4 separate regions of the Homo sapiens genome follow, and all the other regions are reported to be linked to region 1. Evidence: microRNA targets listed by miRTarBase, many of them from high-throughput screens and not tested one by one. Region 1 holds a microRNA gene; each other region holds the end of a gene's coding sequence.

Region 1 (7,162 bases):
ACTTAGCATAGTACTGGACACATACCAGAAACAAGTTAATATTAGTTAATCTAATTCTTATGAAACAACTTTGCAATGGTTTGAAAATTCCACTGATTTTCCCAGCATATTTGGGAAGTCTCTTTAATTTCATCACACCAGTGGATTTCATCTGCTTTCCAGTTTATGTTGCAACTCCTCTTCCCTAGGACTGTCAAGTTCCTTTTCCAAGTTATCTTTAGTGTGCAATCGGCTAGATCCTTCCTTCTCCGCTTTTCGTGAGGGAATGAACAGGCACATACCCCTCATGGCCAGGCCTCAAAGTGCCAAGAAGAGAGGCCAATTCCCTTGACATTTCTCCGTGTTCCTCAGGGCCATCTGCTTCCCTTTTCTGCCTCATCACCTTTAGAAAAATCCTCTTTTGTTCTCTCGGTTGCCAATGAAGACTGTTGTCACAGTTTGCCAGAAGATGTACTGGCATGCCCAGTGATAATGGACTCCATAGATAGGACTTGGAGTCCTCACGAATGAAATTCCCACTTACCTGGACAAAGTAATAACAGGAGAGATGGCCTCTCAAAGAATACTTTGAAAAATAATAAATTCTAGAGAATTGTATATTCTTAGCATATGATACATCTCATATAAAAGAAAACACTGAGATATTCCTATGGACCTTTTTTCTATTAATACATTATTTGAACTATGTCTTTTTATAGTATTTATTTCCTTAAGATCTTAGACATAAACCTAAGTTTGCAGGGAAATACTCATGTCTGAAAGGAGATGTTCTTAAATTGACATTTTACATATATCAGTTGTCACAACTTAAGATCCCACCTTTACTCAATAGTGCTTAAGGGGTCATGGAGGAAGATTTGATTGATTGTTTTTTATGTATACAAGGGGCAGGCCGGGTGCAGTGGCTCACGCCTGTAATCCTAGCACTTTGAGAGGCTGAAGCAGGTGGATTGCCTGAGCTCAGGAGTTCAAGACCAGCCTGGGCAGCATGGTGAAACCCCATTTCTACTTAGATACAAAAAAAACCAGCCAGGCATGATGGCTCCCGCCTGTAGTCCTAGTCCAGCTACTCGAGAGGCTGAGGCAGGAGAATTGTTTAAACTGGGAGGCAGAGGTTGTAGTGAGCCGAGATCGTACCACTGCACTTCAGCCTGGATGACAGAGTGAGTCTCTGTCTCCAAAAAAAGACAGAGTGAGACTCTGTCTCCAAAAAATGAAAGTATACAAAGGACAGTTGTTTTACCCAGAAAGGAAGAAATAAGAAAGTCAATTATTAGAAATTTGTTTAACTGGCATGTGTTGAGTTCCTATACCTTATTAGATACATTTGAACATTCTTTCATTAAGTTCTTAAAAAATATGAATTAGGTATTATTTTCATCTCCCATCTTACAGATAAGGAAACTAAGATTTAGAGAGTATAGGTCACTTGCCCAAGGTCACGGACTACTGGGAAGCAGGGACATGAATTGAATCAAACTCTTTTCAAATCTAAATTCAGTGCACTTAATTTCTGTGTCATGCCATCACACTTTCTCTCCATGAAAGCTAATTTCTCTTTTAACATTAGGTTTTATAGGTAGTTCTACTAATTATGTTTGTGAAGTTTTGTTTTCTTTTCCCTTCACAAGGGCTGGACACAGATCAGCATTCTCATGTTATGAATGATTTAGCTTCGGATTACTCTTCTGCAAATGGAGGGAGGAGGCAAACCTCAAATTAAAGGCAGGGTTGGAATATAAAAGTCTCAGCTCCTCAAGAGTCCAGAAAAACCTCCTCCCAAGAGTGCTGTGGCCTCTTGGCGCCTCTCCAGGCCCAGCCTGCCTGCAGGACTTGCTTGCTCCATCTTGCCGGTTCTCAACGGAGAACTCTTTGTTTTGGACCCTGTTCTTGTATTCTGCTCAGTGGACTTGAAAATTGGAAGTTTCCTTGCTTCCTGGTCCTTCCTGTGCCTGGGAAACAGACTTGGAATTCTTCTTTTCTTCTCTTCATTCAGCAAAAAGACAACCCCACCAGTTACCATTCCTTGTATTAGTTCTTGGAACCCAGCCTGGGCCAACAGTTAGGCCCCCTGAGAAAAGAAGCCTAACTTCATTTGCCTAGTCCTTCCCTCAATAGATTAAGAAATGAAGAGAAAAAAACCTTCTTAACATATACTACATAATACTAATATTTACTTTAAAAAAAAAATAAAGGCTTAACCCCTGCATTTTCATCACTTGAGAAAATTGATATAAGCTAATATTTTCAATAATTTAAAGAAAATAAACCATTTCTTTCCTGCTCCCCTCCCCTTCTGAATATTCGGCATAAATAGTTGCTTGGGTAGAATAAATTCTCACTATTCATTGGTTTGAATGCTTGTGTATATCCCAAGGGTATACACAATGACCTCTACACACATGACCTCTGTTTTACATAGTCAACTTTTATTTTGCTGAGGCAGAAATAATGCATGCAGCAAAGACTGCCAGCTGTTTACCAAAATCCCTTCTCCTCTTCTTCCTGAGCACACAGCTAGACTATACTTCCCAGTCTCCATTGCAATTCTGTGTGGCCACATACTAGAGCTCTTGCACTGCTGTGTTTTTGCATCCCCTTCTACCTTCTGGCTTCCTGAGATGGAGCAGACTATATGCAGTGGACCAGGATGGCAAGGGCTCTACTGTCCTTTCAGGAGAGCCCTTGCCATCCTGGTCCACTGCATATAGCCGAGCTCCCACTGACCTGGAACCCTCATCCTGGACTGTTGTCCAAAAGAGAGATAGATGTGTTTTTCCCTCAAACATGAGAAGCTGAATTTGGCGGTCTATTTGTTACGATATCATAGCCTGTCCTAACTGAAACAGGGCACATGTAGTATGTAGCACAAGTTTCTTAGCTAGTGAGAGTGCTTAGCAGAAGCTCAGTGCCTGCCCTTCACCAAGATTTGAGGTTTCCTACTCATGGAGTGTCATCAGTAACTCTTGCCAAGTGATAAATCTTTTGAATATTGGTGGAATATGATAACACAAAGTAAACTAACCCCTAAATGTTGGTAGCAAAAGTAAAATACAATTGAGTGTGTCTTAGAGGGCAAAGGTTCTTGGCTAAAAGGTGGTTGTTTTCTAGAGTTTAACAATAAAATACCAAACTCATATTAGAAATAGGAATAATTTTACCATATGCTCCACATATAGAAAGAATAAAAAACTCAATTCTGGAACTGTTTCACCAAATGCTTCAACCAGAATTTTAAAAATAAATATATAAATAACTATGGTCCTGAATTTATAATATTAATGATATGTAGGAATAATTTACATTTTTTGATTTAACTCACAACATTTCAGGTAGAAAATTATATGGTATATATATGGAAATTTAATGATTTACACACACCCACACTTACATATATACCGACATACAAAGTTATCACCTTATGATATATTCCTTCTAAATATTATTTGTTTGATCCAAACTCTAGGATGAATTTACCTTCTTAATTCTCTAAAACTATGATATTAGACCACATATTTTTGCATCTTAAATTGTAAAATTTCAGAACATAGAGAAAAGAAGAAAAGAGATATAAATGATATTTATTCAAGACTATTGAACTCATGTGGAAAAATAGTCCCCCGAGGACGTCAGGTCCTAATCCTTAGAATCTGTAAATACTACCTGATACAGAAAAAAGGTTTCTGTCTGTAGGAACCTAAGAAAAGACATTTTTAAATTAAAAACAATTAAAACATTAAAAATTTAAGGTCTTTATAGGTATGATTAAGTTAAGGATATTGTGATGAAGAGGTTATCACAGCTTATTAGAATGGGCCCTAGATGCAGTCACGTATATCCTTATGAGAGAGAGGCAGAGGGAGAGCTGACAACGAGGAGAAGGCAATGTGATCAGGGAGGCAGATGGGAGTGATGCAGCCACAAGCCAAGAAGTGCTGGCAGTCCCATGAGCAGGAAGAGGAAAGGCCAGATTCTCTCTTAGAGTTCCCAGAGGGAGCATGGCCTGGCTAACTCCTGGATGTAGGCCTAGTGAAACTGATTTTGGAGTTTTGTCCCCTAGAACTGTGAGAGGATAAGTTTATGTGGTTTTAAGCCATTGAGTTTGTGGTGATTTGTTATAGCAGCCACAGGAAACTAATCCAATTCCATTTTCTAACAGCTGAGTTCAACTTTGCTAAGTTTATATCTGTGATATTTTATCCTAAGTCTTTGGGGACCTAAGTTTGTTTTCCTTTTCCTTGGCCTGGAAAAGACAAATGTCCCACCCATTGTATTACATGTTGTTGAATGTCTTTAGTGAGCTCAAGAGAGGGAACATCTCTCTTCTCCAGCTGAGTCTGAGTCATTGAAAAACAGAGTAAGATAGATAGAGAGGAAATTATCAATTTTATCATTGTTAAAGTTGATTTTGGAGGATCGCCTTACTATCACTGAATCTCAGATTTAGAGAGACTTACCTACCTTATTTCCAACATTAGACAATGTACTCTAAAATGTAGGGTCTGAAATAGCAGAGCAGAAAGTATGCTTTCTCTATGCACATAGCTCTCAAGAGAATGAGGAGGTAAAGGGACTCAATAACATTAAATGATTCCCTCTTCTCCTGAGAACAGAGATGTCAGGACTGCTGTGCTAGTGGAAATCTTTTTATATGGAAAGAAGTGCTGGGAGTGGAGATGAAACATTTCCTATGGTTCCATCTCCTTATGGGCCAAGATTGACAGCTATCTGTGGGCAGAAACAGTGACACTCTAGGCTTTACAAGCCGAGTGGAAGACAACTTAAACCATAGATAGATAGTAAAGTCCTAGCTGCTCTCAGCTTAAATGTGAATTTTGGACTTGGGACAGTGTTTAAGATCCTAAATGAGTCTGCTGAAGTCTAGTTAAGTCCTGAATATCCCCCGATTCACACATGGACCTTTGTTTGTTAGCATATTCCACCCACCTCTTCTTTTAATCTGTTAAAGGAGACTTCTGCTTTATACAATCAGGTAATAAAATCTGTCTTTATAAATATACTTGTTAGTATGCATTTAGAAATCTAAGTCCTCACTCTTTTATAGACAGGCACTAATAGGTTACCTACTTTTTTCACCAAATGATTCTTACTTGAAAATTAAAAGAACATTGCATTTAGTGTTAAAAGCCTGTAACCTCAACATGAGGTCTCAATAACCCAGCTGCTATCTATTTATCTTGGTAGATTCATTTATTCTCTCTTTCCTAAGGTTATTTTAACAATGTTGTGTTATTTGTAATAAAAGTTGCTTTTGTTTCCACACTGGGCCAGAATGGATTGAGTAATAACATTAACAAATACCTTGAGCTCACATCCGCACCTTTCACCCTGAATTGTTTTCCAATGCTAACTCATTGTCTCCTCAACATTCCAGTGGCTCAGTGACAGGGGGTATTATTCCCATATTTCAGAGAGAAAAAGGAAAGCATGAAAAAGTCAGAGCACACCTGTATCTAGAAATCAGAGCCTTTGATAATGCTATTCTACTTTTTTTTCCTAAGGGCATACATTGTGTTAAGTATCTCTCCTGGTTGTTCTGAGTGAGATTGCTGAATGTGCCTTGGGCTGCACTGAGGGAAGCATTAGTTGGAGTCCTGTGATTGTGCTTGATGATTAAAGTGTGACATAAACGTTGAAGTACCTACTGTGTGCAGGGCACAGTGTACTTCTACTCTAAATCTTTGGGAATTCCTGAAACCTTGAGGTTTGAATAAGGGTCAAAGTGGGGGCATTGACTTCCTCTCCTATCCTTGCAAGTTTGCTCAGGTAAGGGAGCATTATAAGACCAGGAAAATATGATTATGTCATTTTCAACTAAGGTCCAAAACCACAGAATACTGATCATTTTCAAGGGGTTGACCATTTTCAGTTCTCCATACAATGCTTTCTATCATCCCAATGGGACTTCTTAAAACTGAAACCTTCTCTTTTTGGTGTTATCTAAAATTAAAAGACTTCTTATTTTTTCAAGAGCAATTGCTGTGAACCAGAGGAATTGTGAGCCAGAAATACCAATCAGCAAACGACATTGATGATTCACAGCATTTGATGAAGCACAAAATCTTAATATCGCAATCTCTAAAGGTACTGAAAGTTCTATCTTAACTTCATGTTTTTAATACATTGGAGTTTCTCAAAAGAAATACATTCTTATCAACTGCATTTTTAAACAAAATATTTTCATAATATTGAGCAAGAAATTTGCTGTGAATCATTCAAAGTTATTCATTCATTCTTTTAAAATTTACTTAGTGAACAGGTAAAAACCCATTGATGATCTAGTAACATATTATTTGGTTGTATTTTTTCTTTGTCTTTAAAGGTAACATACTTTACAGACACAACTTTTCATAATGATTTCCAAAGGAAGGTAATTTTGTTTTTGTTTTTTTTTTTTTCAAAAGAAAAATTCACTTTGCTTTCCTAATTTAAAATTTGTCATTTATTATACGGGTTAAAAGAACATAGTTGAGTTCTAAACCTCGTAATGGCCTACAAAGTCAGGAACTGATTGCCTACATCCCAGTAAATGACAGACCTGCATTCTTACTTGCTAATTTGTTCTAGAATGCATCTTCTTATGCAATATTCATTAAATCAATAATATTTTGGAAGAGTCATCTATGGGTCCAGTGCCATCCTAGAAGCCATGGAATCTTTGAAAAGCAAGCTTCTAACTTTAGAAAACAAGAAATATAATTGGGAAATTAGGAAACAAACAAACAAAGAAAACCCCAAGACAAGAGTAAAGCAATACAGGAAACAGACCTCAGACTGTGTAAATGACAAAGACTTCATGGAAGGTAAAGAAAGACCTTTCTCATTGGATGAGTGTCTTATCTGGGAAGACTTTGTAAAGGAAGTGAATCCTGAAGACATAGTGAAATGTAGATTTCCTGAGAGGGTTATAGGCATATTTCATCCTCATTAATTTTTTAAAATTATGTCATTAATGTGTGGGCATTACAGCACATTTGACTGTATATAAAAATATGATGTAATAAAAAAACCTAGAAATGACTAATTCAAATCTTCCTGTTTCTCTCTACTATTCATCATGTGTATTAATATGTATACATATATTTATGTGGTTATAACCATACCATAAATACAGTACACATGTTTAATTATTAAATTTATA
Region 2 (7,162 bases), not on the chromosome of region 1:
AGGGGAAAACTGCCTACTCAAGCCTCAGTAATGGCGGACAACCCTCCCCCCACCAAGCTCCAGTGCCCCAGGTCAACCTCAGACTGCTGTGCTGGCAGTGAGAATTTCAAGCCAGGGGATCTTAGCTTGCTGGACTCCATGGGGGTGGGATCCACTGAGCTAGACCACTTGGCTCCCTGGCTTCAGCCCCCTTTCCAGGGGAGTGAATGGTTTGGTCTCACTGGTATTCCAGGTGCCACTGGGGTATGAAAAAAAACTACTGGAGCTAGCTCGGTGTCTGCCCAAACGGCTGCCCAGTTTTGTGCTTGAAACCCAGGGCCCTCATGGTGAAGGCACCCAAGGGAATCTCCTGGTCTGCCAGTTGTGAAGGCCATGGGAAAAGCGTAGTATCTGGGCTGGAGTGCACCATTCTTCACGACACAGTCCTTCATGGCTTCCCTTGGCTAGGGGAGTTCCCTGACCCCTTGCACTTCCTAGGTGAGACGACACCCCACCCTGCTTTGGCTTGCCCTCCATGTGCTGCACCCACTGTCTAACCAGTCCCAGTGAAATGAGCTGGGGACCTCAGTTGGAAATGCAGAAATAACTCGCCTTCTGCATTGATCTCGCTGGGAGTTGCAGACCGGAGCTGTTCCTATTTGGCCATCTTGCCAGCCACCCATGTGTTTTCAAATGAACTTTGAATTGGTTTTTGTAGAATTAACAGCTTTCCTTTTATTTACCTGTTCTAGGACCATTGCAAGACAACCTATTTATTAAAGAAATGAACCAAGCATTAAAAAAAGACAGACTAGATAATGGTTATATGCTTTTTATTTGTGACATTTGAATACCCAAGCTCACATATAACTGATTTCCTAAATATCATTTAATTTTATGTTGCTTTTCTAATTGATTTAATTGTTAGTTTTCCTTATAGTCAAATGCTTAATACAATCATAAATGGAACCAAAAATATAGTAAACATTTCTTTTTCTGATGTATGTAAAAAAGATACAGGAAAATTCTGAAATCAGATCACTATAAGCTAGTAAAACAGGCGAATTATTTGATTAGAAATGGACTCTTCCTTCATAAGTTACACAAATCCTTATGTAGTCACTGAAAATTCTTACTCAGAATTAATACCTGTCCAGAGGGAAACAGCCTGTTATAAAAGCTTTCTGTTAATATATTTTTTAAGGCAGGAAAACAATCATTATTTCCAAACACACTTTGTTTGTCTAATTCTAGGAGAGAATCACCAATTTCTTCAAGGTCCAAAATGATCAGAACAAGAATGACAACAGTGTCAACCAAATGATGCCTCCAACTCCTTTTAATGATTGTGCCTTGGTACACATTTCCTCAAAGATAATGGCTATACTTTTCCCACAATCTTTTTGCTTTTGTTTTCTCCCAGTGTGGTACTCATGGAGTATGGAAGGGACATAAGGTTTAGAGAACATAGGAAGCAATTTGCTTCCATCAATAACCAGAATGATGGATTGACATAAATCAGCACAAAAAGATAAGTGTAATTCTATTCAAGTCCCTTAATGTTTTGCCAATTAAGGTTTTTTTTTTTTTTTTTTTGAAACAACAACAGTGTAATCTTTAACAGGGATGTTAAAGGTAAGAAGTCAGGAAGATAAACCAAAATGATTGAGTATGATAAAGAATTTTGCATGGCGATTAAAATAGAAAACCTATAAATGTAGAAAAAGCAGGTCTGGACTTAGCAAAGAAACAATATAGTTTGGAGAAGGCATGAAATAAGTTCTTTTCATGTTCACTGCTGGTCACAGCCATAACAGAGAGTGATGTGGAGAGCTTTGGGAAGGTTTCACGTTGAGTTACATCAGTGGTCAACAATGGAGCAACAAGACTCCGTAGAGGATGCCACCCTGGGAGAATTGCAAGGGAAAGGAGGCTGAAGCACAACTGGTAATAGCCTTCAGATATTTAATGGATATGCAAATAAAGCTCTGATTAATTGTATTTTCACTTATTATATATCATCTTTGGACCTTTCTAAAAGTGGGACACTAGAAAAGATATACTGAAACTCAAAAAGAATACTTCAGCTCGAGTTGAATGGAATTCAAGATGTTGTGGAGGGTTCAGTGGGTTGGTTATACCAAAGAATGCTATAGAATTTCCATGCCCGAAGAACTGTGAGAGGAGTATAGATTTTTTCACCAAGGAAGTTACTGGCATGGTTTGAGAGATAGAAGGAATTGATTAAGAAACCTCTCAAAGTTTCTTCCACTTAACCTGGCTCTGAGACTCTGGGTCTTTGGAAATGAGAAAATACCCAGGGAAGAGAAAACGAACAATTTAAGAAGCAGGAAATGACTCTAGATCAGTATTTCTCAATTACAGCCGTGTAAGACATTTTCTTCCTAATCATCTCTCCCTTGCACCATCACCATGAAATTTTAATACCACATAAATACTTTGTATCTGTTTATGTACTTGTGATCCTTTGGAGGGTCACAACTCACTGTACTATCTAAGAGTTTTCCCAAAAAAACCATCTGACAATTAGGGAGTGTGTGCTCTCTATAAATAAACTATGGGTCCAAATGGGAGGTCATTGAAGACGGGAGAAAAAATAAAAGCGTTGAATATTTCACCTCTGGCTACAGGGAGCATACAAATCCTCACTTGCCCATGCTCTCACGTATTGCCTGCACATGGAAACTTCCTTCTTCCCCTCCCTCCTGTTATATGGAAAGGGATGAATGCTTTGCTAGTGCTATATCATCTGACTGCAATGCTTATAATATTTTGGGGATCCTGGGCCTCCTTGAGAACATTAAGGGATGAATGTACGTATGCACAGCCTCACACTCTATAAATGTATGTGTCCTGAATTTCAGAGCTTAATAATGAATTATGGAACTTGATAATGATTGGATCAGGCAGACAACACCTGATCAGTCCTAATATCAGAAAAGAGACAAGTAGACATTATGTGCTTCCTGAGGTGAGGCAGTAGTAAGGAAACAACATCACACATGTAGCAGTCTTGGGAAAAAAAATGTAACCTGTATCTCGTAATGAGGAAACAATCAGTAAAAAAGTCTAGATTGTGGGACATTCCACAAACTTGCCTGAACTCTTTAATAATGTCAGTGTCATGAAAGACACACCACACACACACACACTGCACATCATACACAAACACCACCCCACCACCCACCACTCAGACACACACAAAAGGGCAACTCTAATCAATTAAAGGAAACAAAAGAGAATGACAACTACATATAACGTATAATTCTTGATTGGATCCTGGATTTAAAAATAAACAGCTATAAAGGATATTTTGGGGACAACTGGAGAATTTTGAATATGGATCATATATTAGATTTATGCAGTATCAGTGTTCAGTTTCATGGGCGTGAAAATATTGCAGATTTATAGGACAATGCTCTTATTAAAAGAAAGAATATGATGAAGTATTTTACATTTTCATGATGTCTGCAACTTATTTTCAGAAGGTTCAAGAATAAGAATGTGTATTTACAGTGAGAAAGAAAATGTGAGGCAGGTGCGGTGGTACATGCCATAGTCCTGGCTACTCAGGAGGCTAAGGTTGAAGCTCACTTGAGGCAAGGGGTTCAAGGCCAGCTTGGGTAAAATAGGGAGAGACCCCTTCTCTTAAAAAAAAAAAAGGAAGAAAAGAAAACAAGGCAAAACATTAACAACTGATGCACTAAAGGACATAAGGGTACTCACTATAATCTTTCAACTTTGAAACTTTTACTTTAAAATTTCCCAAAATTAAAATGAAAGCAGAAAAAGAAGGAGAGTAGGACAGGTTAGGAAGAAGAAGGAGGGTTGTCAGTCTCTGACCCAGAGGGCTGAAGCTCCATTTATAACAGAGATGAACAGTTAGATGCAGTCAAGCAGAGGAGATAAAAATTGACTGCAGAGATTTTCTTCAGAATGTGCCAAAGTTCTGTGGGAACAGGAATATTCTGTGATTAAAAAAAAAAAAAGGGTAGTTTGCCAGAATTTACCCTAGAAGAGTTCATTAGTGCAATTAACAATATAAGCAGGAGGAAATTCTTCCAAGAAGCTTAAAAAGATTTGGATTTTTAAATTGAGTGGAAATTTCATATGCACAGTTAATAAAAAATAACCTTAAAAAGAATGAATAACAAAGGTCTCCAGATTCCAGCCTCCTGCTCGATTATGCACTGCTGAAATGCAGGAACATATTCAACTTTTTAATGTAAAAATCCTGTGGCGTTCCATGATGCACAGCTACAGAGTTCCTCCAGGGCATGGGCTCCGTAGTTACCTCTCTGTGCCACTGTGCTGCATTCCCATCTGGTAACTGTGTATTGCAGAGGCTGGGACTTAGGGGCTCTTGTTTCTGTTCTCTGGATCTCTGTGATGGTCAGATATTCTTTTGGCCAAAAGAGATGTAGGGAAAAAACTTTGCCTATCTTGTCCTCTCAAAGTTACTTAGGAAGGGGGACAAAAGTATGTTTATTGTTGACCAGGGCACAGCAACATGGTGAGGTAGCAGCAATTGGATTCCGTGAGATGACCTTTACGAGACACAAAGCAAGGTTCAGGCTGCTTGGTTAGGTCAACAGAGAATGCCACTGTACCCACAGAGACAGCCCTTTCTTAGCTTGGACAAAGATTTCATGATTCTAGTCTTTTGTGGCAGCCACAGAGGGCTTTAACACATTATGATTGATAAAACAAAATCAGAGTCATTTAGTTATTCTTTAATCATTATTACTTTAAAATACACTAATACATTCTTATCTACTTCCCTCCACCGACAAATATTTTGCTAAATTAAAAGGATCACTGGAAGTATTATGACCCCCCTCGTCACAGGTGGTCAGAACCACCACAGTTTTGTGAATGAATCAGAGAAGGCAACATTTCATCAACGAAAACTCATTTAGGTTTCAAAAGGCAGGATGTAGTACAGAATGCATTATTCTGACTGTCTTCTGGAATAGAAAAATTGGAAAGGATGAAAGAAGGAAGTTAGCTCCAGCTCCACTGTTACCTTGGCAACCGTGGCCCAATCACAGGGGCAGAAATTAATTTTGTGCCGTAACATAACGTGGCAGAGGAGTGGGGAGCGTGGAGTGGGGAGAGAATGACGGCTGGGTTTAAATGCTCAGAAGGCTAGTGGGGAGGGTTACAAGTCAGCCGTCTGGGTGTTAAATCTACACGTACCAAATAACCAATTGTACTTTTTTCACTGAAATGTTAGTATTATGTAGAGACAGCCACGACTCCCTGTCTTTAATAAAGAACAAACACTGCAGTAATCATGCCCAACGCTCCCGCTGATCATTCTTAGTTATTTAGGACTTTTATTTCTCTCTTCTGGGAAACAGGAAAGAATATCTTCCACTGAAGAGACAAGGAATGATGGTGGTTATAAAAAATACATTCTGATCAGGTGAACTGGTAACTTGTCAGCTTTACGCTAGTAACCAGTCTCTTCCCTGCAGTTAGAACGTGAAGACCCTGTTTGGGGCAGAGACAAGCCACCCCATGGAGTGTCCCTGATAAAACTATTTATTAGGGAAATGCTATGGACGCCTCGGCAGGGAGAGTAGGGAGGTGCAGGGGATGGGTAGGGGTTCAGGTGTCTCAGAGCTCCACAGCCCTGCACAGTGTTAAACCACAGATCAGAGCAGGAGCTTTTAGAGACCTGAAAGGAAGGCTTATTGCATAAAAACTTGCTGCACATCCAGAGGTCCAAAATTCACCCGGCACTTAAAAAACCAATCACAGAGAAGTCGGCCAGCTGACAAGACAGATAAGTGGAAAAATACGAACACGCATCTCAGTCTCAAAACCTGAATTCCAGTAAAGCTTAGGCGGCAGGTCACAGGCAGAACTGTGCCATGTGTGGAAGTGCAGAGGCTTCCTCGTGGACAATTCCCCAGCCAGAACGGTCAAGGGGCTGGTCCTTCTTTCACGTTGTGGTCTGCCTCGTCCACAGGTCTGGGCTAGCAGCACTCAGAAGGTTAAGAGCACACAAAGTGAGTGGGGAATGTCTCTCAGGAGTCACTGCTTGCCTCCACCTCTGCTGTTCCTGGGAGTAGGTGTGTCATTTCAGCCAGGGTGGTCCACCTCCTGCCCGCTCAGGGCACCAGGAGGAAACAGCTTTCCTTTCTTCCAAAGGGTGAGGTGGAGCATTAGTGACACATCCTGCTCGTCATTTCTTTCTGGAAAGCAAGGGGAAAAGGATGGTTAGGAGAAACTATAAGCAGAGCAACGATTTGGTGAAGGATCCTGAAAATGCTCTTGGAATCTCGAGAGCCTGTAAATGAAAGCTTGCAAGCATGGTCCATGAATAAGGCTTAGCATGAGGGTATGTTCCATCTGTTTGTTCTGCAGAATTTTTTTTTTCCATTAAGGCACTGTTTAAAAATTTGACTCATGTATCAAAATTCAGGTTGCTTGCTTGCTTTTTCTGAGAAATTGCAAGATTTGGAGCTTCTGAACAACTGGAGTTGAAGAATGGCTGTCCTCTTCAGCAGAAGAATTTGCTCTCCAGTTTGCCCCAGTCCTTGCCACTCCCACCTGACTTCCCAGCAGGAGCCATGTAGCACTTATGAACTGATACAGTAATTGGATTTGGACTGCTAGTTTTCTTCGAGTAGGGAAAGATTTAAGTTTCAATCAAAGATGGAAAAATAAAGGATAAGTGGGTATAAGTCAAGAAAAGCAGGAAGGAGGACATTTTTAAAAATAGAAATGAATAATACACCAAAGTGTCTGACATGCGTCACCTGCCTGGCTCTTGTGGGTATTTATAGATCCCGAATAGCCATCCTTTCTCTACCCCTGGGGCTCCGCACAGGTTGAGTCCCATGCCTATGGTCCGCTGCTACCACATCCTGCGCCTGCCCCTCTTCATTTGTCAAATTGCCACTCATTTTTCCACCTCAGGTAAGGTGACTTTTACCTGCTGGGAGACCTTCCCGCACTCCTGCCCCACTCGCTGTGGAGGTAGCCACTCTCTCCTCCTGTGCACACATTGATTCTTACATGCAGTGTATGAATTTGTACATCTCTGTGTGTGTGTGTGTGTACTGGGGCTCTGGACATGTCTGTTGGCCCTGCTAGACTGGGCGCTACTAAGTGCCAGGAAAAAGAAGCACTCATTGAATCGCCCCATGTG
Region 3 (7,162 bases), not on the chromosome of region 1:
AGTCAGCTTAAATTATTAAATAAGTAAAAGTAAAGATGGGATTCCACTAATGTAGTTATAAACATGGCAAGAGTTTGAAGGAAGCTACTGGAGCCTATTGATGGAAGTCTAACCTCTCATGGTACAGTTTGGGGAATGGTACCATTGATCAGGCAATGATTGCCAAATGCCCAAAGTTGGCATTCAGGCTAGTGATAGCTCCAGGTCTCCTGGTGTCCAAATGTTCCTTCTCTGCTCTCAGGGCCTTAGTTTTGTCATCTGTTAAGTGGATTGTTACGATGACAAGCAAGATGAGACATGGAGAATTCCAAATTCTGAATACAGAAGCAGGTCTGCAGGCTGATTAGTATAGTTATGTTTTGTCTGGCCCTAATCTCAGGAGTGGGGTCTACCATGTTTACATGTTTACCCTTGTTTCCAGGTGACTTCCAGGACCTCATCCTGAATGTAGTTGGGATGAGAAGATGATGTGACCTCCTGGTCTCCAGGCATCCATGACCTAACAGACTGCACTGTGTCAGGATTCAGCTATGCCTGGTGCAGCTGGACTAGGTCCCACTCTGGGTCTTATAAGGAAGGATCGACTTGTGTGTGGCCTCCAATGCAGTTTCACTTGTCTTCAAAGCCCTCCGCAGAATGTAAGTAAAAATCTGATCCTGGAATTGCCCTTGGCGAGGTGAGCAGCCAGGGGCCACACACAGAAAACAGTCTGTTCCTGGTGGCGTTCGGAAAGGCCAGTCACACTTGCCACCCCCGTTGTCATCGTCCCTAGCTTCAGAAAGCACTGGAGCCAGGTTGACATGCGGCCGATGAGTCTTTGTTCAACTTGAGCTCAGATGGACACAGAAACATGAGAGGAGCCAAGTCCTATGTTTAAACAGTTAAGAGGAAGCCAGGCTCAGTAAGGAACTACAACCCGGGATTTAGCCTGGTCCAATTTTCCTTCTCTGGGATTTCCTGTCCTTTTTTGTAGATGTTTCTATCTATCGAATGTTCCCTGGTCATTGGTTGAAGGCCATCAAGTCGGCGGTGAAAGTCTTACCCAGTACTTACACAGTACTTCAGCTTAGCTGCGAAAATATCAATGAGCTGCCGAACTGTGTGGACCCCAAGCCAGGCTGATGGGACACACGTGCCAGGCCTCTGTCCATCTGCCCTTCACGGTGGAAAAAGAGCCCAAACTTTAAGACTGGGCTTAAACAAAGCATCCACACAAAGAAGTCCAGCCTGCTACCCCAACAACTGCCAGGGGGGCAGGCCACATTGGGGTTGGTGGGGGACAGAAAACCGGTGGGTCTTTAAGGAATGCAAAAGAAGGGAACCCCAAAGGCCCCCTGCAATGTCCTCAGACTGCAGTTAAAATTTAACAAATTTTTAATGTAAATCATCTGGCATACTCAATTGCATGGGGTACACGGGATGGGTGGGGGTGAGGGGTGGCAGCAGGGAGGGAACAATGGCTAGGATTAGATAATTTACTTAGTGCTAAAATTCCAGGAAGTTTGTGTTGATCTGGGCCTGGATCTTGTTACTTTTTAGCTCAAATCTAAATCTTTATCTTCCTCTAAGAGTTGAGAGGACATTTATTACGTCGTCATTTTTACAGTTGTAATTTTTACTCCCTTTCATCAAATAGAGCTGGTTAGATTAGCAGCTCTTAGCACTGAGATGAAAATATTGGTAGGGCCCAATGGGTCCTGTTTTGTTTATTCTAACAGAGCAGGCTTTGATCTAGACATATTTCCTGGGGTCTGGACGAGATGACCTAATTCCTGTCTTATCCGTCTCTACTTTTCTGTGAATCTCAGATTGCGCTTTACTGTGGAGCCCTTTGAAATTCACTTTATACTTTTTTCCACTTTGTTACCCACTCTGACATTTGTTTCATTTGGGATGGAGTGTGTAACTCCTAGCAAATAATCCATTGCTTTATTTTTCTAACAGGACTGCTAAGTTTTAACAGAGTAGGAGCTTTTTTTTTTTTTTTTGCTCTCTCATTCTTGACATTCACGACATGCCAAAAACAATAAGCAAATAATCTACTGCTAGAAATTTATGTCAACTGCAAATCATTAAGAATTTTCTGTTTGAAGACATTTTTTTCTTGTAATTAAAAAAAAAAAATGCCCTCCCTCCACTCCCTAAAAAGCCATTTGAATAGACCTGGCCTGTGAAGATTGGGATGTAAAAACTCAAAGCGCAAAGCCAGCTTCAGGTATCTCCAGCTGATCTGCAGGACCCCTCCCTTACGCTACCCACCCTTCCCCAACCCAGACCGGGGGTGGGGGTGGGGGGGGAGGGAGGGAGGGAGGGGTCATCTCGAGCAGCTTGGGTTTGTCATTGGTTCTCTCTCTCTTTTTTTCCCCTCCCCAGGTCCCTGTCAATCACCAAACTGCTCTTCCAAGTATATTTTCCAGGAAGAAGGAAGCCCGTGGCGGGGGGGTGGGTGGAAAAGGGAGGGTAGTGGAGATGACGGGAGAAGGAAGAAAGAAAAAGCACGACGGAATATAAGGAAGGAAAGATAGAGAGAATGAGAGAATGACAGCTACCCAGGCAGAGAGGAAGAACAGGAAACGCAGTTCCTGGGGAGGGGTGGGGGGAACAAAAACAACAAAAAACCTCGAATAAACTACAAATTCCTAACGTTTGTAAATTTTGAGTGATAGACACAAAGCGTTTCTTAAATTCTTCTCTGGGCTGTTCTGTATTTTTACAATTCCCCCCTTTTTAAAAAAAAAAGCTGGGGAAACTGTCACCAAAGTGAATATTTTTAGCTAAACAATTCTGTGAACTTAGTTGCAGCAACAATCCTTCCTTAATTCAGTGAATTCGGTTCTCGGTGATTTCAATACCACCACGAGGCACCTCTAGTGAGGCGTAGCGGGGCAAGGGTCGGGGAGTAGGTGAGGAGGGGGTGCGCGCCCGTCAGCTGCCTTCACCTCAACCCTGTTGCTTTGTAAATGTAAATCCAGTTCTGTTCTGCGGGCCGAGCCCAAAGGCTGAGTGTATTTTTCACACTGGGAGGAGAAGCAGGGCAGAGGGCGATTTCTTATTTTGGAAATGGATGGAAAGGGGAATGAATGGGCAGGTAATAATCAATAGATTAGAAAGATAGTCAATCAATAAATGGATAGGCAGGGACAAAAGGAGACACAGAGAGAGAAAAAGAGAGAGAGAGAGAGAGAGGAGGGGGTTGGAGAGAAAGAGACGGAGAGACAGAGAGACCCTCTGACCTTTTCCTAAACTCTTCTGATGGCTCCGGAAAGAGAAGTGACTTTTGCTCCCCTTAACTCACTTTCAGAAACCGCTGGAAGGTGGGAGGTTAGTGATGAGAGGGAAAGGGAACACAGCGCCCCCGCTCCCCTCTCCCCACTGCCTGCCTCTTGGAAATGGACGCGCAGCCCAAGGTGGTGCAGGGCGGTGACCTTCGCGCCCGGCCCGGAGTGCGGGAGCCCCGGGGACTTGGCGGCGGCGGCCATTGGAGAGCGGGGTCCAGCTGCTGGCAGACGCTCGGTGGAAAGTGTCGCGGCGCAGCCCCTGGACACCTTTGGAGAGGGCCGGCGAGGCGCCGGGCATGTGCGGCAGGGTGGCGCTGTCGAAGCCTGCCCCTCTCGGTGGGCGGCAGCCCCCCGGATCACTTCCCTCAGATGTCCCCAGGCCCTGTCCCTGGGCGTAAAGGGCGCGCAGCCCGGGGCAGCCCCTCCTCGCCACGCCCAGCGATGGGAAGTTGTGGACGTCGTCTGTGCAACGGAAACAGCTCCATCTGGCCCGCGCAGAACCAGAGTTCTGGCTGGAACTCCGGCCTTCAATCCGTGTCCCCACTCTTGGGGAAAAAATGTCACTCCTGGAGCGGAGGGGACGGGACAGGAGAGAGGAGAGCGAGAAATCTGTCCCTCTAAATGTTCGGGTGCCAAGCCTTCGGGGTGATTCTCAGCATCAATCACGACGTCGCGCAACCCTCTCCCCTGCCCCCCCCGCCGCCCTCTCTGGCTTTGGGGGCTCCCACCCCCTCCCCTGAACTCTCCCGGCCCAGGTCAGCGCCCACCTTCTGGAACGCCGGACCCGGACCCGGACCCGGACCCGGAGGCCGAGCAGGGGTTGAGGGCGCCCCCTCGGCACAGAGTCTAACGACAGGGTCGGGGGAGTGCGGACCCGAGTGGCCCGCGCCCTGGTGGAAACTTCTGCAGGAAGCGGCCCGACGCTTTCTACCTTACCTGGGCACAACCGCCGGATGCGCGGTTCACCAGCTCCCTGAAACATTAAAAAAAAAAAAAAAATCGGCGACCCCTCTGGACACAGCTTCCCTTCAGTCCGTTTGCTCACCTCAAAACAGTGCTCAGGAGGAAGAAAGCCTGTTCCCCCCTCCGCCCCAGAACAACAGGGAGAGGGGAAGAATCCATTTGAATTTGCTTGATGAAATATTCAAGCTGACTCTACATAACCTTTCTAATAGACTTTTTCTTTCAAATATGCATGTGCGTTTAAATGCCTAAAAGACCAATTAAATAAAGAACATGTTGACCTCTCTGGGTTGAGGCCCAGTTTAAGTCAGATTATATAACCCCGCAGCATCAGGAACTCCCCAGCAATGTGGCTCTCAGCTGCCTGAAAAAACGTGACTGCATTAAGTGAAATAAAACCAGAATAGTAAAAGTGAAATCTAAATCGGCATAAATATCTTGCTTAAAAGAAACTTACCTGTTGGGTTAAAACCTCCAACAACATCTTTTTATGTCATTTCGTTGTTTTGCTTTTCTTGGGGGTGGGGTGGGTAGCGAGTGGAGTCTATAAAATCCATTCCTAAATAAATCATAGATACTGGGAAAATATCTAGGGCCTCCAAATTTCAAAATAAAAGAAAACGCAGGCCCATGCAAAGCCGTTTGTTATGCCTTTTACAATTCCTCATTTAAAGAGGGATACACACTCACATACACAATTGACTGCTGCCTGGGGAAATGTTAAAACGCATTTGGGGCCTGGCTAAATGGAAATGCACTCTAAAAACACAGACACAGTATTTTGTTTTATCTGTTGCAAAAAAAATGTATTTGATTACTTGAGTAAAATTACAGTATCTCTGTTGTTAGTAAGTATTAAATGTTAAAGAAATTGGACCCCCCCTTTCCTTTCAACTTTCCAAGAAAGTGCATGTAACAGTCCAATTTTTTTCTTCCATACCTAAGACAAAATAAACAAACACTATACCTGCTCTCTTGATCAAGAAGAAGCATTTGCTCTTGTAAGGAACATATGTACATTTGAATGAAAGTGATATTTCTTATTGTATATACAAGAGCATCTACATTTTCTCCACTGAAGGTTGTTCAAGATGCTATACTTAGCAGCATTGTGAAATTCCAGCACACATTTTCTATCGTGAATATACCTACAAGGCAAAATGTTACGTCTCAGTTTCAACTACCAAAACAACGCTTGTTTTCTTTTTCTCTAAAGAATTCTGCGTGCTTATTACTGTACAGAAACTTATTAACATTGAAGACGACTCAAGTAAAAAGCACAATACAAATAGCAGTTCAAAATGGAAATGGTTAAATCGACAAAAAAAAAGGTTGAATTTTAGAATAAAAATTAAAAAACCAAACCTTTCAAAGAACCACACTGTTCAGTCTGTACTTTCAGTCCTTTCCTTAAATCTGTTTTGAAAGATTAGACAATGTGTTTGCTGATAAAATTTTCCAGCAGGATCAAAGTGTACATGTATATACAGACTTTATTAGAGATCTAATGCATCACTGAGGCATTGCATCAACACCAGATTCATATTAAACTGGATATAGAAAATAAGTTAATGCCAGATTACAACTGCCTAGCAGGGCAACTTGCAATTGCCATAAATGTTACAGCAAGTTTACAGCACTCTAGTCAATTAGTATTTAGTCCAAAATACAGAAGACCAAAGTTAACGCTTGCATTCTGTTTGCAAAGCAAGGTTATATCGCTAATAAATAAGCTTTCTTAGAACTCTAAAGTTGAACAAGGTACAAAAGAATGTCTTCATAATGTTGTAGTTCATAGATCTGGGGAACAGAAGGAAGGGGCGGGGCGGGGTGGGGGGCAAGGAGTAGGAGGCCACCATAGGTCGCATTCTGAACAGGAATGAATGCTATGTCTCCAGCCCGAGCTGCTTTAACTCGTGACGATCTCCTTGCTGTCCTCCACGAAGCGGGTGAAGCGGAAGTTGGTTCCGTTCTCACTGCTTGCCATTTTCTCCAGGCCGGCCAGGGGAGCATTGGGCTCTGAGTTCTGGAGCCTCTCCAGGTTTCCCGTCAGCCCACTAACAGGTGAGCTGTTCCCACTGCCGAGGCTTCCAGGAATTGGAGGGATGCCACCGTTCTGAATGACGGAGATCTCGTTGGCCTTCATCGCCAGCCCGTTGGAGAGCGCTGCTGCATACTGATTCCAGAAGCTGGAAGGATCCCCACTTCCTGATCTTGCCGCCAAATCCTTCTGGAACATTTCTGGGAACTTGACGGGATTGCCTCCTAGAAATGTCATGGGGCCATCCACAGAGAGCCGCCGACCCCGTCGTGCAGGGGTGCTATTCCACATGTGAGTGCCCATGTGTACCTGAGATATGGGGAGGGCAGGCAGAGAGACAGAGAGAGAGAGAGAAAAAAAAGAGGAGGGGGAGAGAAGCTTAATAGCTGAATCTGTCTCAACTCATATCCCAAATGTCCACAAAGCAAGTGGCCTAAATGTCTATTCTCATCATGTGACAGACAGTGAAGGCAACAGGAACCATCCATTCCTCCTGTCTAGTAATAACGTGTTCACTCTCTGCAGCCCTGGGCTGTCTCCCCTCTTCCAAGGCAAGGATGCCTTACTTACTCTTTTTTTATTAACCATATTTAGCTTATAATGGCCTCAAGCAAGCCAGGCAGTGGCGGATAGCTCCTTTCAGGGTTAGAATTGTTAGGTCCACTCTCATTGCAATGGTAAGTATTGTATCTGACACCCTTTACCCTATAAATGTCCTTTTCAGATGGGGAGAAGGTATCCCTCCCTGATTGCCCATTGGAGGGCCTGCGTATGGAGAGAAAAGCCAGAAAGTAATTATTCATCTCACATTACTGGGAGCAATCTCCAGAGAAATACTCTGTCAACAGAAAAATGTACACACTAAGAGCACTCAACTGTT
Region 4 (7,000 bases), not on the chromosome of region 1:
GCGCATGGTGGCTCACGCCTGTAATCCCAGCACTTTGGGAGGCCAAGGAGGGAGGACTGCTTGAGGCCAGGAGTTTGAGACTAGCCTGGGCAACACAGAGAGACCGTGTCTCTATAAAAAGTATATAGTTTAACTTGTTTCTGTGGACAGCTTTTTAAAGAAGACCATCATGTGGGTATTTATCATTCAGTATGTAGACTGTGGCAGATGTTTAATCCCACCCTGCCCCTCGCTCCTGCTATCAGGAGATAGTTCTGGGACAAGTGGTTTTAGCCTCTCGTAATCTCCATTACACCGCACGAAACCACCCTAAGAGGCTTACACTGCAGGCTTCTCTACATGCAGCTCCAAGCAGAGGCCCCAGCCCCAGGCAAAACCTTCTGGGCTTCCCTATGATCCGCCAGGCAAAACTGAAATGACATTTTAACACTACCACCTATAAAATAAAAGCAGGAAGGTAAATCTGACTGAAATCAAATCTAGTAATTATTTTAAAGGTAATATTCCAAAGCCAAAACAAAACTGTGGGGAATGGGAGAGGTCTTTGTTTCTTTCTGATAGATGATTTAAAATGATCTGCTATTAGGGACACTTCATCCCTTAGATGACCTATGGGGTCCCCTGCGTTACTAACAAACAGCAGCAAGCGATCAGTATCTAACTCCGTGTCACTCTCTGAGAGCACTGTGGCATCAAGAAAGGTGTCCCAGGAGACCTGGCCTAGGCGCCCTCTCTGTCGCCAAGTTAATTGCATGGCCTTGGGCAAGTCACTCCACCCCGAAAGCCTCAGTGTGTCCATCTGCAGAATGGGGCTGCCACCTCCTCTCACCTGATGTTATGGAGATGAACGGAGTACGTGCAAAAGCTCGAGGGGCTGCCTGGATGGCCCGACGCACTGCCTTGGGCCAGTACACACAGTGTGGGGCCTACCTGGACATGGTGCTGGGGAGCCTTCGGGTCTTCAGGCGGGGAGTGGGGGCCGGGGAGAGACGGGTAGCACTGGGTGGGGTCCACTTTCCTGGGAACCTGCTTGGTAACTGCGTTTCCTCTGTGTTTCTTCTGTAGGAAGGCCAACAGCTCAGGAGAAGCCATGTCACTGGGGAGCCACAGCCCGCAGAGTGACTCCCTGACACAGCTTGTCCAGCAGCCGGATATGATGTATTTTATTCTCTTCCTGTGGCTCCTGGTGTACTGCTTGCTGCTCTTCCCACAACTGGATGTTAGCAGGCTCTGATACGTGTGTCTGGATAATAAAAAAGACAGGACCCTGACCAGGGGCGGGGTTACTTCATTTTATTTTGGGTTCTGGGTGGGGCACTTCTACAGACAGTTGAGGACCTCCGAGGAAACTTAGACCCCCTTTCTCGCTATTGTGGTTTTTTTTTTTTTTTCAGGTTTCCTTTTTTTTCTGGACAACCTGAGCATGCTTTTTTCTTTGGCTGTGTACTCAAAACTCAGGCATGCAGCTGGATCCGTAGGTGGGGTTTTGTCCTTGTGTGCCTTGCTGGGTTGGATAGGGAGCATTGTTAGTGATCATTAGCCCGCCTGGATCTTAGCACACCCCACATTGCAGGTTCACACGCTGGATGAACTTGAGTTTCTTACCTCTCAGATGAAGGGCTGCTTAATGAGAAAGAGGGTGGGCACCCCAGGCCAAGCCCCAGCTGGGGAGAGAGCTGCCACGTTTTCCTCCAAGCGTGGGTGTTTGAGAGAAGGTGCTGGGGTCCATGCACCTGTCGCAGTCCGGTAACTGGTTGCATTCACTAGGGGAAATCCGAGCAGCCAGCTCTGTGTAAGCACATCCAGGAATGGCAGAATCCAGGGAGGAAGGTGAAAGCTGTGTTGAGAGCCACTGTGTGCTCTTTTTCACCCTGTTTTTTTTGTTGTTTTTTTGTTTTGTTTTTTGTTTGAGGGGAGATAACACTTGAAATTCAGTTTTCCATTGATTGGATTGAGATAGAACCATGATTTTCAAACCAGATCGCCAGGGCCCAGCAGGGCCATATAAAAGCCATGAGGAGTGGCTGGGCTGGAATCAGCTCCCAGCAGTGCTGGAGCTGGGTGGTGGGGTAGCTTCCTGCCCACTAAAGCTTTGGTGCACACCTCCCTCAGAATGCATGTCTTGGAACGGGCATTCTTTGTGGTCACTTGTAATGGGTTTCTTGAAGAGGCTTTCTGGACAGCACTCCGGGAGCAGGCCAGCACAGGAGGTTTGTGAAAGAAGAGAGGCATCTCTAGCACCCCTGCCCCCAGTCTTCCTCAGCCCCAGGCTCCCTCTGCTCTCTCCTCCCTGCCAAGACTCAGGTCCGTGGTGAGTCTCTGCATTGGTTCCTCCTCCCCTTGCTCTCCCCTTCAGAAAGCATGTACCAGGCAACCCTTATAAAATCACAAATGAGTCAGGAGGGGACTCAGTGAGCATCTTGTCTAGCTGGACCCAGAGAGACAGAGCAGCTTGACCAAGATCATATAGCCGACCAGGGGCAGACTTGCAGTGAGCACACAGGCACCTGATGCCCTGTCCAGAGCTGTCACCCCTTGTAGGAAACTTCCACTGGGCACACCAATGTCCTGAGAAAAAGATAAAATGACTAGATTAAAATGTCCACATTCAAGCAAAACCAAAAAGTTTAGACCAACTATCGACATTTGTTTTGTTCTTGTATTTTTCCCATGAGGAATTCTTACTCACCTTCAAGCTCATCCCCAATTCCTTCTGAAATACCCTTGACAGCTGCAACAGCTTGTCATTTGACATACCAGCGTCGCTCTTACTCCAGGAATCACGTTTCTTTCTTTGCTAGCCAAGGACTTGCTCATTTCAAGCAGTGGGTTTCAAGTTTACAGAATTCCAGCATGGCCAGAAGAATTTACATAGCACATCTGAGTCGATGACAGCCAAAATCTGGCCTCTAAACCAGTCTGATTATAGTCTGTCTCCCCTCCTGAAAGAATTTCAGCCTTCCAACCAGAAAGCTGCTGGGAGCTTGGAGTGATTCCATCTGGAAGGCCAAGAGCCCCATGGAAAATGAGCTAATTAATGAGCTCCCTGGCATCAATGAAAGCTCAAAGGTACAGATAATAAAGATTATGTGATAGTTTATAACTCTGGGCACCATGCAGTCCTTGCCTAAATTAGATGCTCGAAGAGCCTGGGAAGAGCCAACCCAAATGTGAATCATTTCATTTTATGGGTCTAGACCTTGTTCAGAAAAACCTCTGCAAGATACTTCTCTCACCTATTACAACTTGTAATATTGTTTAAAACATCTACTGGCAAGATGCCTGAAAGTCATTTGGTTCAGGTTGGCAGTCAACTGATATTTTGCAAAGGAAAAAAAAATCTCATTTGAGTATAGGCTTCTATGGAAGAAGCTGGATATAGAAAATGGATGTGGAAGTCTGCAGGACAAACCACCCCATTGCTTGTAAATTTTTTTTAAATTAAAAGAAATACAATAAGGCTTTTAACAAGAACTAGCAGTCCCCTAAGTCTCGCTGCTTAGAAGTAACCACTTTCAACTCTCTTATGTTTGCATTTCTACATAACGTGCTTACACTTTATTTTTTAATTTAGAAACATCTACTGGCTTGCTGTCACAGTAGAGGAGGATTTCACTCTTACCATACCGTGCTTTGGTTTTCCAGTATAGCTAGATCACATCATTTAGTACATTTCTATTAGGTGTTGACATTACCTGGAGCACTTAAGGATTGTTGACTCCCAAGCCCAGCAGTGTGTTATGGTTACATGTCCTTTCTCCTCCAAATGTCCCCATTAATTTGCTATTCTCTCTCTTTACTTTTTTTTTTTTTTTGGTGTGGCACATTCTTTAATAACTTCCTGAGGAAGAGAACATGGGAAGTAAATATGGTTGTAAATATTTTGAGATTTTTGCATGACTTAAGATGTCTGTATTCTGCCCTTAACAGAAATGTGGCTGAGCATAGAATGACAGGTGGAAAATAATACCCTCCCCTAGCCCCTCCCAAGCGTGCTGGTTGAGATTTCTGATGCCATTCTGATTCCCGTACCTTTATATGTGACTTAGGTTTTTTTATCCACCCTTCCTGGAAACATTTAAGATCTCTTTATTCTTGGTGTTCTGAACTGTCATGATGGTGTTGTATCCCGGGTGTTAAACCTTGTGCTGGGCCTTCATGGGAAATTTCTTAAATTTTCTTGTGATTATTTACATTCTTTCTTTCTGGACCACCTATTATTTCAATGTTGGACCCTCCCCTACACCCAGGCTGATGCTCTAATATTTTTTATCTTTTCTATTTTTCGTCTATGTTTCTGATCTGCTTTCAGGAAGAATTATTCATTTTTATCTTCCCAATCTGAATGTTTTATTGAATTTTTATTTTCCAAGTTAATAAAACCTTTGGTTATTATCCTGTCTTTGTTTTACAGTGTCCTGCTCTTGATGCGTGGATGCAGATTTTGTCTCTCTGTGGACGTTAATGATTGTGGTCTGAGGGGAAGTCTTTTCTGCTCCCTGTGTTGCCCTCATTTTCTCTGAGTTCTCTTTATTTTGGTGGTCTCAGTCTCTATCTTTCACGTTGTGAATTTTTCTCAAATATATGGTGATCCTATGGATCTGTTCATGTTTTAAGAGTGAGGCATCCAAAAGCTGATTGGAAGTTGTGTGTGCCAACTGGTGAGCTTTTCCACTAGGGTCACCAGGTGGGCACCTGGACTCATCATTGGAGAACACTGCCTGTCAGTATTTGCACGTGTTTTCTCTGGGGCTCATTCTGTTTCTTGAGAGATATTCCCACTACTCTCCTTCCTGGGAAACGGGCATACACAGGGCTTTTAGCCTATGCTGAGTACTCATGTGGTTTCAAAAATGGTGTCCCATCTGGGCAGAAGTCCCCATGAGCACTTGGCTTGACTGGCAAAGGACACCTTTTGCCCCTTCCTCCAGACATACCCAGCTCTGAGCTTGGACAATGCTCGAGGAACAATGAAAAGGCTAGATTTTAACTCCTAATTGCCCTCTTTAGCCAAGTGCCTCTGTGCAATGCACAACTGTAGGACCATATCCAGAGACCCTGGTCTATACTCAGTGTGCCCGAGTCCTGACCGCTGAGCAGGCAGCCTCATCACCCGTGAGTATTTAGACTTTCATTAAGTTGCTTCAACCTTTGCTGTGCCTGGTGTCCCTGAGTTGGAGCTGCTCTGATTTCTCCATGGAGTAGGAGCACAGTGGTCATCTGGCTGCATGGGAAGGACAGGGGACCTCAGAGCCAATAAATGCCCTGGTCTTCAGCCCCATGTCTCACCCCATCCCTCCTATTCCAATCCCCAAGCCTCTCCTGGAGGCCACAGGGCATCTCTGCTGACCACTCTGTGGCCTCCCCTCTGCAGGCATGTGGTTTTAGGATCCCCCTCCCTGCTCACTTTTCCATCAGTTCCATTCCTGCATAAATAGGTTGCTAGCTCTTGCTTACTGTTCTCTTCTGTATTCTGTGTTCATGGTTGTATTAATATAACTTTCATTCCTCTGCTCCTATTTTCATGGGGTTTCATGAGGGAAGAAACAGGCTCATGTGTTCAGTATACCATCTTGATCCATAAACCCCATTTGAGTTATCTCACAGGTTGCTTAGGGGGCTTGCTGCTCTGACTGGTTTGTGAACGTGCCCTGAGTCCAGCTGGGACTGCAGCAACATCCATCCTGTTGAGCTGTGGTCTGCTAAGTGATTTTGTGTAATGCTGTGCCAAGTGCAGGAGAGGGATACATAGCATGGCTAAGCTCTGCTTGAATGCCATGATTAGTTATTACCTTCCTTCCTTCCCCCTGGTTTTGCTGCCTATTGTCAGTAAATGATCTTAGATCTCCTGCCTCCCCAAAGATATAGTCTATGTGGTGGTCTGGGTTCTAGGTTTTCTTTACCACCCTTGCTTCACTTAAGAAACAGAAAACTGGCTAGGCACAGTAGTGGCTCACACCTATAATCCCAGCCCTTTGGGAGGCCAAGGCAGGAGGATCGCTTGAGGCCAGGAATTCAAGACCAGCCTGCACAACATAGCAAGACTCCATCTCTACAAAAAGTTAAATTTAAATTAGTGGTGGCATACACTTATAGTCCCAGCTACTCAGGAGGATGAGGCAGGAGAATTGTTTGAGCCCATGACTTTGAGGTTACTGTGAGCTATGATCCTGCTATTTTACTCCACCTGAGTGACAGAGCGAGACGCTGTCTCAAAAATAAAGAAACAAGTAGTCCACACAGGTGTTTGCCAGCAAACAAACAGCGCGGATTCTCTGTTGAACGTGGCCAACATTGCCTCGTCGAAGTTTGTATCTTGCCATAGTTGATGATCAGGTGGTCGGGGCTTCCTGGTCAGACCTGACCTTTGTGGGGAGATGTTCTCCCACCAAGGCTCAGAAGCAGGACACTCTTGCTGCCCCTCGGGCAGCCACCCAGAACATGGGCGTCTCCATTTCTGAGGTTCAGCATAGTTCCCCCCACCCTCTTCCCATGCAGTGCATGCCTGCTCTTTATCAGGATGGAACAGAGGGAAGGCAGAGGCACTGGGGGCAGCCTGTGTTGTTGATCTCTGTAAGTCACAGACTGTTCGAAAACCTCAGGAATTATGTAAGCGTTCAGTGCCTCATTTAAGAGATGAAAAACTGAAGATTAGAAAGAGGAAACGACTAGTCGCCCTGCTAGTTGATGACCTCCAGATAGCCATCTTCATTCCCAGTTAAGTTTACTACAAAACCACAGCCTCAGCTGCTGAAGCTAACCTCCCTACCCACCATCGCTAGGGACTCAGAACACCATGGAGCTCATCTCTCCAACAAAAGTCAGAATTAGCAAGTACAGATGTGTCTTACGAAAATGTCAGAATCCATCATGGCTGCTTTGGTGAGGAGCTGTTCTCCTTCCGTGGTCATGCCATTGGAAGGCAGTTGTATGACAAGAATGCTTTCACATGAGCTCCGATTTTCTTAACTCTCCAGAAGGACTTCAGAAGCCTCTGGAG

The links. Region 1 holds the annotated microRNA hsa-miR-4776-3p (CUUGCCAUCCUGGUCCACUGCAU, at 2,636-2,658, opposite strand). A microRNA usually pairs through its seed, bases 2 to 8, with sites in the 3' UTR of a target mRNA and lowers its output. Matches are read on the target gene's strand: a 7mer-m8 pairs with bases 2 to 8, a 7mer-A1 pairs with bases 2 to 7 and ends in A, and an 8mer does both.
Region 2: the mRNA of MOB3B is a reported target of hsa-miR-4776-3p. Seed matches in the 3' UTR shown: 7mer-A1 at 3,996-4,002 and 7mer-A1 at 1,543-1,549.
Region 3: miRTarBase lists SALL1 as a target of hsa-miR-4776-3p. Seed matches in the 3' UTR shown: 7mer-m8 at 5,850-5,856.
Region 4: miRTarBase lists CLMN as a target of hsa-miR-4776-3p. Seed matches in the 3' UTR shown: 7mer-A1 at 4,900-4,906.

What each region holds. Positions count from the first base shown.
Region 1 is chr2:212,921,806-212,928,967 of GRCh38, reverse strand. MIR4776-1 (microRNA 4776-1) reads right to left here and starts at 2,711; the gene lies at 2,632-2,711. MIR4776-2 (microRNA 4776-2) reads left to right here and starts at 2,632; the gene lies at 2,632-2,711. RefSeq lists an enhancer at 1-200.
Region 2 is chr9:27,324,414-27,331,575 of GRCh38, forward strand. MOB3B (MOB kinase activator 3B) reads right to left here. Exons shown (of 4, transcript NM_024761.5): 4 at 796-6,203. The coding sequence ends at 6,174. Among named protein-coding and RNA genes, the nearest start is that of EQTN, 31 kb to the left of the region's middle.
Region 3 is chr16:51,130,962-51,138,123 of GRCh38, forward strand. It overlaps SALL1 (spalt like transcription factor 1), which reads right to left. Exons shown (of 3, transcript NM_002968.3): 3 at 5,021-6,591. The coding sequence ends at 6,151. LOC105371253 reads right to left here and starts at 4,930. Exons shown (of 2, transcript XM_017023963.3): 1 at 4,215-4,930; 2 at 2,787-3,844. The coding sequence starts at 4,260. The coding sequence ends at 3,240.
Region 4 is chr14:95,185,798-95,192,797 of GRCh38, reverse strand. CLMN (calmin) reads left to right here. Exons shown (of 13, transcript NM_024734.4): 13 at 1,066-7,000. The coding sequence ends at 1,234. Among named protein-coding and RNA genes, the nearest start is that of DICER1-AS1, 32 kb to the right of the region's middle.